Linked DNA regions of Homo sapiens. The protein of the gene in region 3 purifies or fractionates together with the protein of the main gene of each other region. This does not show direct contact. Each region holds a gene or a part of one and is shown on either strand. Other genes may lie near its edges.

What was found.
Region 1: the proteins of ATG4C (region 3) and ALS2 purify together in Homo sapiens (affinity purification with mass spectrometry; one large-scale study listed by BioGRID and IntAct). This does not show direct contact.
Region 2: the proteins of ATG4C (region 3) and CLCN6 purify together in Homo sapiens (affinity purification with mass spectrometry; one large-scale study listed by BioGRID and IntAct). This does not show direct contact.
Region 4: the proteins of ATG4C (region 3) and SPTLC1 purify together in Homo sapiens (affinity purification with mass spectrometry; one large-scale study listed by BioGRID and IntAct). This does not show direct contact.

The regions. Positions count from the first base shown.
Region 1 is NC_000002.12:201,760,414-201,764,012, forward strand, and holds part of ALS2 (alsin), read right to left. Parts: intron 3,198-3,599; exon of another isoform or gene 2,301-3,197; intron 1,406-2,300; coding exon 468-1,405; coding exon of another isoform or gene 390-467; exon of another isoform or gene 1-389. UniProt on the Homo sapiens protein: May act as a GTPase regulator. Controls survival and growth of spinal motoneurons.
Region 2 is NC_000001.11:11,830,112-11,833,710, reverse strand, and holds part of CLCN6 (H(+)/Cl(-) exchange transporter 6), read right to left. Parts: intron 197-3,599; coding exon 73-196; intron 1-72. UniProt on the Homo sapiens protein: Voltage-gated channel mediating the exchange of chloride ions against protons. Functions as antiporter and contributes to the acidification of the late endosome lumen.
Region 3 is NC_000001.11:62,790,602-62,794,200, reverse strand, and holds part of ATG4C (cysteine protease ATG4C), read right to left. Parts: intron 1-3,599. UniProt on the Homo sapiens protein: Cysteine protease that plays a key role in autophagy by mediating both proteolytic activation and delipidation of ATG8 family proteins.
Region 4 is NC_000009.12:92,052,894-92,056,492, forward strand, and holds part of SPTLC1 (serine palmitoyltransferase 1), read right to left. Parts: intron 2,602-3,599; coding exon 2,512-2,601; intron 1-2,511. UniProt on the Homo sapiens protein: Component of the serine palmitoyltransferase multisubunit enzyme (SPT) that catalyzes the initial and rate-limiting step in sphingolipid biosynthesis by condensing L-serine and activated acyl-CoA (most commonly palmitoyl-CoA) to form long-chain bases.

The DNA.
Region 1 (3,599 bases), on a different chromosome or scaffold from region 3:
TAAGTTTTAAATCTGCCTACAATTGAAGGATCTGCCACAAAACAATCTTCCCTGTTAAAGAAGGAAAAGACTTTTCTCTACAGAATTCTGAAGAGTGTTACAAACACAAGTAAGAAGAATCTTTGTGAATCTCTAGTTATATTAAACTATTCAGGGCCCACCAAAATTCAGTACTTTAGCCATAGAAAAAAAGTACTAGCAAGAAAAAAAAATGAAATGCTCCTACTTATAAAACAAGCCCAACATGACACCTTTCAATATCATAAAGGGCCAGAACAAACATAAAGAGTGATTTTGAATTAATCCAGGTTCTTTCCTTTATCTAGGCTTGCCTGATAAAACAAAATTATAATCAAACTCAAAAAATAAAAAATGCTACCAAGCCTTACTCATTTTAAAGTTTCTAAAGAAAAGCCCATACAGTTCAACTCTAGACACACTTTTATTTTATAAAATTGAGCAGGTACCTGAGATGGCACTGGCTTTTCACCATGCTCTGAGTCCTCTCTTACTGAATGATCTGACAGTTTCCGTAGGTATTCATTGACTGCTTGGGTGTCAGGGTATGATGGTATGTTTCTGGCAGAGGAAATTTCAGTTGTTCCCATGACATTTTGTTGAGAGGACATGGCATCGCTGCTTGTGATCTGAGCACTTACTGCATTCAGTTCAGTAGCAACAGACTGATCATTTGCTACAAGAGTGTTCTCAAATACTTCTTCCTGCCTGTCAAGGGTTTCAGTGGAGGGGCTGAGAGCAGTGCTGGCATGGTTTTCTGCCTGAGATTCTGTCAGTGTCACACCTAATGGGCAACAATGACTGTCTGATATAATCACATGGTCTTCTTTGTCAGTCATAGTAATCAAGAGCTGGCTGCACTGGTTGCATCGTTCTGGGACTGGCTTCAGATCCTGGGAAGGGAGGCATTGTACAAGGGCTAAGCTGTGGAAAGCACCACAGGCAACTTGAAGCACCACTCGCCCAGCAAGATGTTCTACCTTTTGCGGCTTTGTCACTGGGAAGGCAGTGGTAATGAGACCCAACTGACAACCGGTACCCCATGCCCAAATCTCTCTGCTTATTGACAATGCCAGAGTGTGCTCCTCGCCACACGCCAACTGTAAAATCCTGACTGCTAACAAAGGGCTGGCCTCAGAATCAGCAATGCTGACAGGATTTGGTTCCGGCACATACTGCTGGTTGGCTACTGCACACTGGCCAGCAGAATTCTCTCCCCACATGTACGCGACACCATTGTCTGTCACTGCTCCACTATGGAAGCTTCCTGTTGCCACAGTAATAACATATTGCCCAACCAGGGCATTTTCTAGAATGGGGCTACTTGGACAAATCTCCACTGGTCCACTTCTCCAGGGAAGAGTCCCAAAGCTGTAGACCTCACCATCTGAAGGTTAAAAAAAAGAAAAAAGAAAAAAAAAAGGGTTAGTGAATTAACTAAAAATTTTAACAGCAAACTTTTAGTCCCCTATAGATTTAACCAAATTGGATTTTCTTTTTAAATTTTCAAAAGCAGTTGTAGAAATCTGGTTCAAGCACACAGTATTTCACATTAATTCATCTTTTTAAAAATGACTCTTTTTAATATTCTGCACTATAGTGAGAATTTCTACAAAGTGCAGGAGGCTAATCCTTTCCTTCAGCCTCATCCTACAAACTCCTCACATCAATCCACTCCTAACGGCCATCATCCAGGCTATTATAGAAACAGATTCCAAGTGTTCAAAGGCAAAATAAATAACCATGTTAAGATAAAATAAGCAAAAAATAAGACAAAACAGACACATTCACTAATATCTACAATTCACTACTACTAAACAAGTTGGAACAGCAAAAAATTATGCAATGGCTTAAAAATATTAGCGATTCATTTTGGCCAAAACTAAGAAATTAACTTTATGCCTCTAGGCTGTACAGGAAGCACCAGTTCTTAACAAGACATGGCTGTCTTCACTTTGTATGTCACATTATATATAGTTTTGAGATGTTACATAAATATACAGGTTGAGTATCACTTATCCAAAATGCTTGGGACCAGAGGTGTTTTGGATTTCAGGTCCAGGTTTTGGAATATTTGCCTTATGCTTACTGACTGAGCATCCCAAATCTGAATGTTCCAATGAGCATTTCCTTTGAGCACCATCACATCAGCACTCAGAAAGTTCTGGATTTTGGATCATTTTAGATTTCAGATTTTTTAATGTGGGATGCTCACCCTGGACTTTATGTACTAGATACTAGCTAGTCTTTCTGAGGTGAGATTTGTTTAAAAAGCAAATCAGCTTCTTCTCTGAAAAAACATCAAATGGCAGATGAAGCTAGGGCAGCAGGAGGGCCCAGAGGCCCCAGAGACCCTGGGATGGGGAACCACAGTGACTTCCATGGAGGCTTGGGCAGTGGCATCTGGGGCCAGGGTCGGGGCCACAGAGCTCAAGGAGGCAAGGCTGAGGATAAGGAGTGGACACCCATGACCAAGCTGAGCTGCCTGGTCAAAGACACGAAGATGAAGTCCTGCTGAAAACCTATCACTTCTCCCTGCCCATCAAGGAGTCTGAGATCATTGACTTTTTCCTGGGGACCTCTCTCAAGGATGAGGTTTTGAAGATTGTGCCAGTGCAGAAGCAGACGCGCACTGGCCAGCACACCAGATTCCAGGTGTTTGTTGCCACTGGGGACTACAATGGCCACTTGCTCCAAGGAGGTGGCCACTGCCATCCAAGGGACTATCATCCTGGCCAAGCTCTCCAATGTCCCCGTGCACAGAGGCTACTGGGGGAACAAGATCAGCAAGCACCACGCAGTCCCTTGCAAGGTGACAGACTGCTGTGGCTTTGTGCTGGTGCGCCTCATCCCTGCACCCAGAGGCACTGGCATTCTCTTAGCCCTAGTGCCCAAGAAGCTGCTGATGATGGCCAGTATCGATGACTGCTACTCCTCAGCCAGGGGCTGCACTGCCACCCTGGCCAACTTCACCAAGGCCACCTATGATGCCATCTCCAAGACCTACAGCTAACTGGCCCCCAACCTCTGGAAGGAGACTGTATTCACCAAGTCTCCGTATCAGGAATTCACTGGCCACCTCGTCAAGACCCACACCAGAGTCTCCAGACAGAGGACCCAGGCTCTAGCTGTGGCTACAACATAGGGTTTTTATACAAGAAAAATAAAGTGAAGTAAGCCTAAAAAATGTTAAAAATAAAAAGCAAATCATCACAACAGAACAAAGCAAAAAAGCAAATGAACCTGTCAGAATAACTGGCTAGCTTTAGAATTAATGAAAGGCACCAGTGAGTTGGGTATATAAATAACTCATGTATGTCCAGCTATGCTACCAAGTCTTAATTTTACTGTAGTATTGTGGGAGCTTGGGAGCAGGTACACATAAGCTATGCTGGCTAAAAATTCAATGAAACAAAGACTTGGCTACGGGTTTTAAAAAATACTGAGCCAAGCCCACTATCCTTTCTTTTCCATATGACCAGAGATTTATGATTTTTTTTAATTAATGAAGAAATAAGCACTGTTTTTTTTCTCATAAGGCAGCAATTGAGTTGATGATGAAAACATGCAAACTTTATCTT
Region 2 (3,599 bases), about 51 Mb from region 3:
ATGAAGGGCAAGCCTGGCTGTGTCCGAGATGACACCAATCACCCACGATTGGGCTGCAGTGCAGACACTCACCATCCTGGTGGAAGAGCTGGAGGATGGCAGACTCCTGCGGGTTGAAGAAGAGTGTGGCCATGTCATTGTAGGTATCATTGGGACAAAAAAATGTCTTGATACTTGAATTCACATCTTCTGTGACCTGAGAAGAAGGAATCAGAAAATCAGTACAAGGACACCTGACTTTGAGTCTTCAAGTGGGATGTCTCCAGCCGGGTCCAAAACAGGTGGCTGCACAGCTTTCCCCATCAATCAAACAGGCCAAAAACTGACCTCTACCAACGGCAGCCACACGGGCAAGTGTATTCTTCACATTCTGAATGCACAGATGAAAGAATCGGGATGAGGGCCTTTTGTTCATCCACACTCATGATGAAAATGTCACTATGGCCGTGATTCACCGTGAATTTGGTTCTGCTTCCTCTCCCGGTGCTAACTTTCTAAGTGATGCTGCTAGAAGCCTGGCCTGAGAGCCCTAGGACTGGGGGAATATGAGGCAGGTGAGAGCAAGTGACTGGGAGTTGACAGGTATCTGGGGAGGAAAATCCAGGGCACCACTTGACCGAAAGCCCCAACTCTGGTTCCAAATAGAAAAAGCCTTTGATTTTGCTGCAATTTGCTACAAAAAAAAAAAAAGCACCTGAATTTGCTGCAAAAGAAAACCCACCTCCATAATGCCTGGAGAGCAGACCCAGTCCTCCAGGCTGCCTCTCCTTCTAGACCCCATCTGGGGAACAAAACCCAAACAGAAAAAGAGATTATTTCTTCTACTACTTCTACACATTTTAGACCTCATTTTCTTGCCATCATTCTGTGTGGGAAGATGGGATCTTTGCTAGAAGGCAAGGGTGTTTCAAGTGTGCTGTTTTATTTTCTAGTTGACAGTGTACAACGGTACAAGGTTGTACTTCACACCTATCACTGTGCATGCAAATAGGGAGTCTTATTACAAAGGTTAATCAAGGCTATGGGTTTCTTCTGGATGACACAGCTGTGGAGATGCCATTATGTGGACGTGCTAACAATACCAGGGGGTGGTTTGTGTGACCCCGCCAGGTGAAACGGGCTGGGCAATATAGACGTATGCAGGCTGCTGTGCAAACAGCACGGCACTGCTGACTGGCAGCACCTGGCACTGGTGAGCCATGTGCAGAGCCTCAGCGTTGTGGAGTGCACGGGGGATGAGCTCAGCTGATGGCTTCATAATAGACACATGCAGTGTTTCCCAAACTGTCTGGAGGAAGTTCAGTCCTGAAGGCTTTCCAGAGAGTCCTGTGGTCAACTGCACTGAGAAACATCCTAGCAATTCTTGGAAATCAGTGTGTCTGCTAAAAGCTGAGCACAGGCTCCAAAATCAGATGGCTTTGTCTCTAAACTCTGCCACTCTCTAGTGACGTTGAGAAGGATATTTCATTTTGTGAGTTTCCTCACCTATAAAATGGTAACAACACCTACCCTCTCACTATATATGACTAGCTGAAGGTTTTTGGTCAAGACCATACTGTGCCTCAGCTTCCTTAGCTGTAAAATGGGGGCACAGCTACTGGCCAGCAAGCACAGTGCTGATAAGGATTAAATGAAATCATATAAAGTACTCAGTGGAATATCTGGTACACAATAAAGACACCAAACATTTATAACACTTATGGGAATAAGGCCCTAGAAGTTCTGTACTAAAGGAACGTATTTAGGTTGGGTGCTATGGCTTGTGTCTATAATCCTAGCACTCCTAAAACAGGAGATCATTTTAGGCCAGAAGTTCGAGACCAGCCTGGGCAACATAGTGAGATCCTGTCTCTATAAAAATAAGCTGGATGTGGTGGCATGCACCTGTAGTCCCAGCTACTTGGGAGGCTGAGATGGGAGGATCGCTTGAGCCCAGGAGTTTGAGGTTACAATAAGCTATGATCACACCACCGTACTCCAGCCTGGGTGACAGAGTGAGATCCTGTCTCTAAAAAGATAAAGAAGCATATTTAATTCCTAGCCCATTTGACCACAGAATCGTTTTTTGTATGCTTTAAATCACACGCATCAAGGTATCTGTCTGGTAATGAGCTAGGCTTGGGAATAACTAGTAACAGGGGTCGGCAAACTTTTTCATAAAGAGCCAGACAGTAAATATTTTAGAAGTTGCCAGTGATGTACAGTCTCTGCGGCATATTCTTTTTTTTCTCTCAACCCTTTAAAAATATATAAACCAGCTGGACACGGTGGCTCACGCCTGCAATCCTAGCACTTTGGGAGGCCGAGGTGGGCGGATCACAAGGTCAGGAGTTCAAAACAAGCCCAGCCAAAATAGTGAAACTCCGTCTCTACTAGAAATACAAAAATTATCTGGGAATGGTGGTGCGTGCCTGAAGTCCCAGCTACTTGGGAGGCTGAGGCAGGAGAATCGCTTGAACCCAGGAGGTGGAGTTTGCAGTGAGCCGAGATCTTGCCACTCCACTCCAGCTTGGGCAACAGAGTGAGACTTTGCCAAAAACAAAAACAAAAACAAAAACAAAAACATATATATATAAACCAGGCTGGGCGTGGTGACACACCTGTAATCCTAGCAATTTGGGAGGCCGAGATGGGTGGATCACTTGAGGTCAGGAGTTCGAGACCAGCCTGGCCAACATGGTGAAACACCATCTCTACTAAAAATACAAAATTAGCTGGGCATGGTGGTGGGTGCCTGTAATCCCAGTTACTCGGGAGGCTGAGGCAGGAGAATCACTTGAACTTGGGAGGCGGAAGTTGCAGTGGGCCAAGATCGCGCCACTGCACTCCGGCCTGGGTAACAGAGTAAGACTCCGTCTTAAAAAAACAAAACAAACAGAAATATATAATGTGTGTTTGTGTGTGTGTGTGTGTGTGTGTGTGTGTGTATATATAGTGTGTGTGTGTATATATATATATATATATATATATATAATATATACATATAACTGGGGACACTGAAGAGGCTGTCCTCCAAGACAAGGGCCCCAATGGGGATCTGAGAGATTCAAGTGGTTACAGAGAAGCAACAAGGAAAGAGTACAGTTGTTCCTCAGTATTCACCAGGGATAGGGTCCAGGATCCCGATGGATACCAAAATCCAGGGATGCTCAAGTCCCAGATATAAAATGGTGTATATTTGCATATAACCTATGTAGGTCCTCCTATATACTTTTAAATCATCTCTAGATTATTTATAATACCCTAATACAATGTAAATGCTATGTAAATAATTGTTACACTGTACTGTTTTTTATTTGCATTATTTTTTACTGTTGTCTTGTTCTTTTTTATGTTTTGCATCCTGAATATATTTGCTCCACAGTTGGTTGACCCTACGTAATTCCATGGATGCAGGACCCACAAATGTGGATGGCCGACCGCACTTAGAGAATGCTCACCTGTCTGCAGCCAAGGGCTGGAATCACACATCTGGCTGACTCACTGAACCACAGGTGTAGCTCTCAGAGCCTCCGGGTTGGACCGAAAGAACACAGCGTGGAGTAGGCTCCACGGACTACCTCATGGGACCACTCCTCAGGGAAAGCCTCTGGAAAATA
Region 3 (3,599 bases):
CAAAGTAATCATCATAACCAACCTAAATAAGATGTAAGGAGTTTAAATGACCTCAATCATGTACTTGAAGACCAAAATAAGAATTATTAATGACACCTAGGCTGTTTTAAGATAGCCTTAAGCCTTGATCTTATCTCTAAGAAGAACATAATATTTACCACACAGTTGTTTGATAAATACATTTTAATTATGTCAGGTTCTTAGTAACCTCTGATAAGTCGAAGGTAACTACGAATACTTGGAGCCTCCCTACTTCAAAACGCAACTTTCCAAGCTCTTAATATTAACTCACGGTGTTAACCTCTTATATAGAGATAGTAGTCTTTACATAAGAGGTAACACCGTAAGTTAATATAGAGACTTATATAGAGACTTATAGAGTCTTATATAGACTGCTATCTTTACATAAGAGGTAAAGAGTCAAATCATTTAATCAACAAAGTATAATTAACCCCTACAAGAAATGAAGGATGTTAAGAATCTCAGGACTGAAAGAGAATTTATAAAGCATCTAATAACTAATACTTTTTTTGTTTTTTGGTGTTTTGTGTGTGTGTTGGTTTTTTGTTTGTTTTTTTGGTTTTTTTTTTTTTTTTTTTTTTTCGAGACAAGGTCTTACTCTGTTGCCCAGGCTGGAGTGCAGTGCCAAATGCCTTGATCTCCCAGGCTCAAGTAATCCTCCCACCTCAGTTCCCTAGTAGTTGGGACTACAGGCAGGCACAACCACACCTGGCTACTTTTTTCTATTCTTTGTAGAGATGGGGTTTTGCCATATGGCCCAGGCTGATCTCAAACTCCTGACCTCAAGTGATCCGCCCGCCTCAGCCTCCCAAAGTTCTAGGACTACAGGCATGAGCCACTGTGCCTGGCACTAGTAAGTATTAATATTAACAGTAGTTCTTGACCATTGTCTCACACAATACAAGCTATCATTAATCCTTCCTAATCAATAGTACTTGGGTGGAGAGGAGTAGTGAAAGAAAATGTGTAAATTTAAAAGAATTTAAAAAATCATGGCCGGGCGCGGTGGCTCACGCCTGTAGTCCCAGCACTTTGGGAGGCCGAGGCGGGCGAATCATGAGGTCAGGAGATCGAGACCATCCTGGCTAACACGGTGAAACCCCGTCTCTACTAAAAATACAAAAAATTAGCCGGGCGTGGTGGCAGGCGCCTGTAGTCCCAGCTACTCGGGAGGTTAAGGCAGGAGAATGGCGTGAACCCGGGACGTGCAGCTTGCAGTGAGCCGACATCGCGCCACTGCACTCCAGCCTGGGCGACTGAGCAGGACTCCGTTTCCAAAAAAAAAAAAAATCACTACCACCCTGAGAGCTGTGATCTGCTCTCTGGTTCAGACTCACTAATAACCAGCTACTACTTGGGTTCAACCACCTATACAGTAAAAAGATCTCCTTTAAAACATCCTTGCCAACTGCAGTCCCTCAGCCTCTGACTGAACACTTACTTCTAGAAAAGGGAGGTCAGTACTAAATGAATATTGTACTAAACTCAAAATATGCTATAAATGTAAAAGCCTGATGATGTTTTAAACTGTGTATTTTCATATCTGTTCTAGAGCATCCATAACTGTTTTAGAGTATCCATAGTAACTACATGATACCTGCTAATTTTAAACAACTAGATTTGCTAAAATGATATTATGTGGAACCAAGTTTCTGTCTATACATTATTTTCACTAACTGGTCCTGGTTGTAACCTCTGAAACTAATCCTTCCATTGGAGAGCCCATCTGATATTTAAAGACATACCTCCTAACCTCCCTATCCCCCAATCTTCTCTTTTCTACATTAAATGTCCCAATTCCTTCAACTGATCAGAAGACTGTCTATGAGTGGTAATGAGAACCTCAATCAGGGTACTGGTGAAAGGATTAGAAATGAGTAGATAAGGCCGGGCGTGGTGGCTCACACCTGTAATCCCAGCACTTTGGGAGGCCGAGGCGGGTGGATCACGAGGTCAGGAGTTCAAGACCATCCTGGCCAAGTTGGTGAAACCCTGTCTCTACTAAAAATACAAAAATTAGCCGGGCATGGTGGTGGGTGCCTGTAATCCCAGCTACTCAGGAGGCTGAGGCAGAGAACTGCTTGAACCCCGGAGGCAGAGGTTGCAGTGAGCCGAGATTGTGCCACTGTACGACAGCCTGAGCGACAAAGCAAGACTCCATCTTAAAAAAAAAGAAAAGAGTAGATAAAAGTAGCAAGTTGACATGGTAGACCGAGCAACATCATACAAATATATGGATGTGTATATGCCCACATACCAGAGAGGAGACTAAAGTGACTATGAGATTTCAGGTCTAATGTCTAGGAGCATAATGGTTCCATTAGCTGAAACAGGGAACCCAAGTAGAGAAGACTAAGGTGAAGATAGGAAATTCAGTTTAAGATACAGTGATTTTGAGGTATGTAATAAGTAAATATGAATGTTATCATGGTGCCTTTAAGAGATGACTGGGTAACTGGGGTTCTGCCCTCATAAATAAATTAATTCACTCATGGATTAATGGATTAACAGGTTATCAGAGGAGTGGAACTGGTGGCTTTACAAGAAGAGAAAGTGAGACTGGAGCTAGTGTGTTTAGCTCCTTCACCATGTGATGCCCTGCACCACCTCAGGACTCTGCAGAATCCCCACCAGCAAGAAGGCCCTCACCAAATGTAGCTCCTCAACCTTGGACTTTTCAGCTTTTGTTAACTATAAGGAATAAATTCCTTTTTTACATAAATTACCCAGTTTCAGTTATTCTGTTATAAGCAATGAAAGACAGACTACGACAATGGATAAGACCATTTCCAAGACCCATTATATTAGTTACTCTTGCCAAGAAAAAGGTGCATCCATATTACTGAAGCTAGTACTACATGTAATTTAAACACAAAATATCACATTTATTCATCAAGTATTTGAGTGGTTACTCCTACAAGGCACTGAGGGAGATACAATGAGCCATGAAACCCAGTATCTGCCCTCATTAATCTTACATTCTAATAAGCAAAATGGTTATAACTAACCATAAGGCTGAATGTGGTTATATCTCACAATAGAGATATAAAGTATCATAACTATTAAGAGACATATTTTCCCCCTTTCCAATGAGAATATTCACACATGAATAATATCACAGGGTAAAATACAGTCACAACAAGTATTCTTCAAATACAAAGAAGGACTTAACAAAAAACATAAATCTTTCCATTCTGGTTATAAATACAGGAAAACATTAGACCTATTACTTGGGAATTAGTTAAAGTACCCCCAACAATTATGTCTATTGTTAAAGATTAATGCTTGAATTGTATCATCAGTTAAAAGAAGAGCATTGTTTAAAATGTTCACAAACACAATTGTTTTGGTTTACAAATGGAATCACTTGATGTCACTTTTCTTGCACTCCTAATTTTAAATATCATTATAACTGAAAAAATAGAGCTACAAGTTTAGAGCTTACAAGTCTTAAAACTTAATATTCTCCAGCTGATATAACTGTTCTAGAGTTCTCTATAACTATATATTACAAAGTTTTAAATTATGTCACTTTAGTAGTTTTACAGATAACTGATTTTACAAAGAGTATATTAAAA
Region 4 (3,599 bases), on a different chromosome or scaffold from region 3:
GGACATCATCAAAATTTTTAAAAACTGTGTGTCAAAGGACAGTATCAAATAAATGAAACAAACCCCCACAAAATAGGAGAAAATATTTGCAAATCATGTATCTGATAAACATCTAGTATCCAGAATATACAAGGAATTCTTTTAAAAACAAAAAAACAACCCAATTTAAAAAATGGGCAAAGCACCTGAATAGATATGTCTCCAAAGGTATACGCATGGCCAAACAAACAAACAAACAAAAAAAAAAACAAGAAAAGAGGCTCAGCATCATTAGCCATTTGGGGGAAACAGGATCAAAACCACAGTGAGATACTACCTCATGCTCACTAGGGTGGCTAAAACAAACCAACAAAAAACCCTGGAAAATATAAGTGCTGACAAAGATGTAGAGAAACTGTAACCCTGGTATATAGCTGATAGGAATGTAAAATGGTGCAATCGCTGTTGAAAACAGTATGTCAGTTCCTTATTAAGTTAAACACAGAATTACCATATAATCCAGCAATTACCCTGCTAGATATATACATAAAAGAACTGAAAACAGGAATTCAAACAAATACCTGTACACAAATGTTCACAACAGCACTATTTGCAATAGCAAAAAGGTAGAAAGAACCCAAATATCCATCTGTGGATGAACATATAAAACAAAACGTGGTATTATCCATGCAATGGACTATAACTCAGCATTAAAAAGGTATGAAATACTGATACATGGTATACAATGTTAATGAACTTTAAAAACATCAAGTGAATGAAGCCAGAAAGAAAAGGTCATATATTATATGATGCCATTTATAGGAAATAACCAGAAAAGGTAAATCCATAGAGACAGAAAGCAGATTGGTAGTTGCTGGGAGCTAGAGGGAGAAGAAAATGGGGAGTGACTGTTTAATGGGTTTGAGGTCTTCTTCGTGAGTCATGAAAAGGTTTTTGACCTAAAGTTGATGGTTGCACACATGGTAAATGTAATAAATGTCACTGTCCTGTACAATTTAAATTGGTTAATTTTGTGTTATGTGAATTTCACCTCAATAAAGGAAATCTCAATGGTCATGGTTTCTAAAAACAGTTATGCTGCTTTCACTATTAAAAAGCTAAGTTTTGGCCATGCGTGGTGGCTCACGCCTGTAATCTCAGCACTTTGGGAGGCCAAGGAGGGTGGATCACCTGAGGTTGGGAGTTCAAGACCAGCCTGACCAACATGAAGAAACCTTGTCTCTACTAAAAATACAAAATTAGCCGGGCATGGTGGCACATGCTTGTAATCCCAGCTACCTGGGAGGCTGAGGCAGGAGAATCACTTGAACCCAGGAGCCAGAGGTTGCGGTGAGCCGAGATCGTGCCATTGCACTCCAGCCTGGGCAACATAAGTGAAACTCCATCTCAAACAAAAAACAAAACACAAAAAAACAAAAAAGCAAGCTATGCTTTCATTCATATGCAATTCTACAAAAGGTAAAACTAATCTACAGGAATAGAAAGTAGATTAATGGCTGTCTGGGGCCAACATGGGTACTCACTACCAAGAGGCATCAGGAAGCTTTCTGGATAAAGTTTTCTTTCTGGATAAACATTGTCTTACATAAAAATATTCCGTATCTTGACTGTGGTGGTGGATGGCTGCAGTGATACAGATGTATATACATCTGTCAAAACTTATCAAACTTTACCCTTAAAGTAGGTGTATTTTATACGTTGATTTCACCTAAATAAAGCTGGATCTTAAAAGCTACGTATGGCCGACTCAGTGGCTCATGCCTGTAATCCCAGCATTTTGGGAGGCCCAGGCGGGCAGATCATGAGGTCAAGAGATTGAGACCATCCTAGCCGACATGGTGAAACCCCGTCTCTACTAAAAATACAAAAATTAGCTGGGGGTGTCTGCGCACGCCTATAGTTCCAGCTACTCGGGAGGCTGAGGCAGGAGAACTGCTTGAACCTCGGGGAGGAGGTTGCAGTGAGCCAAGATGGCGCCACTGCACTCCAGCCTGACGACAGGGCAAGACTGTCTTGCGGGGGAGAAAAAAAAAGCTAAAGCTAAGTTTTGGCCAGGTGTGGTGGCTCATACCTGTAATACCAGCACTTTGGCAGGCTGAGGCAGGAGGATCGCTTGAGCCCAAGAGTTTGAGAACAGCCTGGGTAACGCAGTGAGACCCCTACTCCACAAAAAAGGGAAAAATCAGCCAGGTGTGGTGGCATGTGCCTGTAGTCCCAGCTAACTCAGAAAGCTAAGGTGGAAGGATCACTTGAGCCCAGGAGGGTAAGGCTGCAGTGAGCTGTGTTCACACCACTGCACTCCAGCCTGGGCAACAGAGCAGTCTTGATTACTCTTTGAAGGCCAGCACTGGCATTCAGTGTTGTTCTTCTTCCCTGATCTGAGCAAAATATGCTTATGAGGCCTAATGCGCAAAGCAACGCAGACGTTATACACTAAAAGCGGTCATAAACAAAAGGCACATCTGTCAAATAGTCCAAATATTAAAATTACAGCTGAACATGGTTGCTTACCAATTCTGGAAGAGGACAAATAGTTCCAGTATTCATATACAATCCTTCTACTACAATGAAACGCCGAGTTACACGAGCCTTGCGAGGATTCTTTAAAAGAGAAAAAGCAGACATCTTACATTTCAGTAACTCTGAAGACAAGATCTGTTACATATTCCCCAGCACTTTCACCTTACAAGATTTATTCCTAAAAAAATATTCTGAATGAATTGAAAGCTCAGTGTTTGTGATGGGTTATTTTGAGATGAACAACAGTACTATCTTCTCTCAGACGTTTTTCAGCTCACAGCATTAGCTAGGTGACCCGCCACACACACAAACTAATTAGGCCCTCTGAGAATATTAAAACACAAACAAAACCCTCCAAACCTCCAACTGGGAAGGGGCCTAAGGGACTTTCTAAAGAAATGGGAATGTTTTACATCATAATGGGGCTGACATTCCTGGGTTACATGGGTATAATCACTGGTCAAAATTGTATGGCTGCATTCATGTGATTCAATGTCTGTCAATTTTACCCAAAACAACTATAATGAAGGTCATCATCATGAAGATGGGGTGAGGAACAGATGGCACAAGAATGATGTAATGCTGATAACAAAGCTGGGAGAAGGGTACAGGGGGCTTCACTATACCACTGTGTTTCCTTCTTATATGTTGGCATTTTTCCATAACAAAAAGTTAAAAAACTCAAACCGTTTTCCTTCACCTCCCAAAAAAAGGGGCAACCCTGTTCCCTCCTCACTCCCCACTGATGTATTATCGGATCAAGTAAAATTTGACTATGAGCTTGTCCAATGATGTTCCCAGGTGGTGGGGTAGAGAGGTCTCCTTTTCTTTTTTTTGAGATGGAGTCTCACTGTCACCCAGGTGGGAGTGCAGTGGCGCCATCTCTGCTCGCTGCAACCTCCGCCTCCAGGGTTCAAGCAATTCTCTGCCTCAGCCTCCCGAGTAGCTGGGATTACAGGCACCCGCCACCACGCTCAGCTGATTTTTGTATTTTTAGTAGAGATGGGGTTTCACCATGTTGGCCAGGCTGGTCTTGAACTCCTGACCTCTTGATTACTGACCTCGGCCTCTCAAACTGC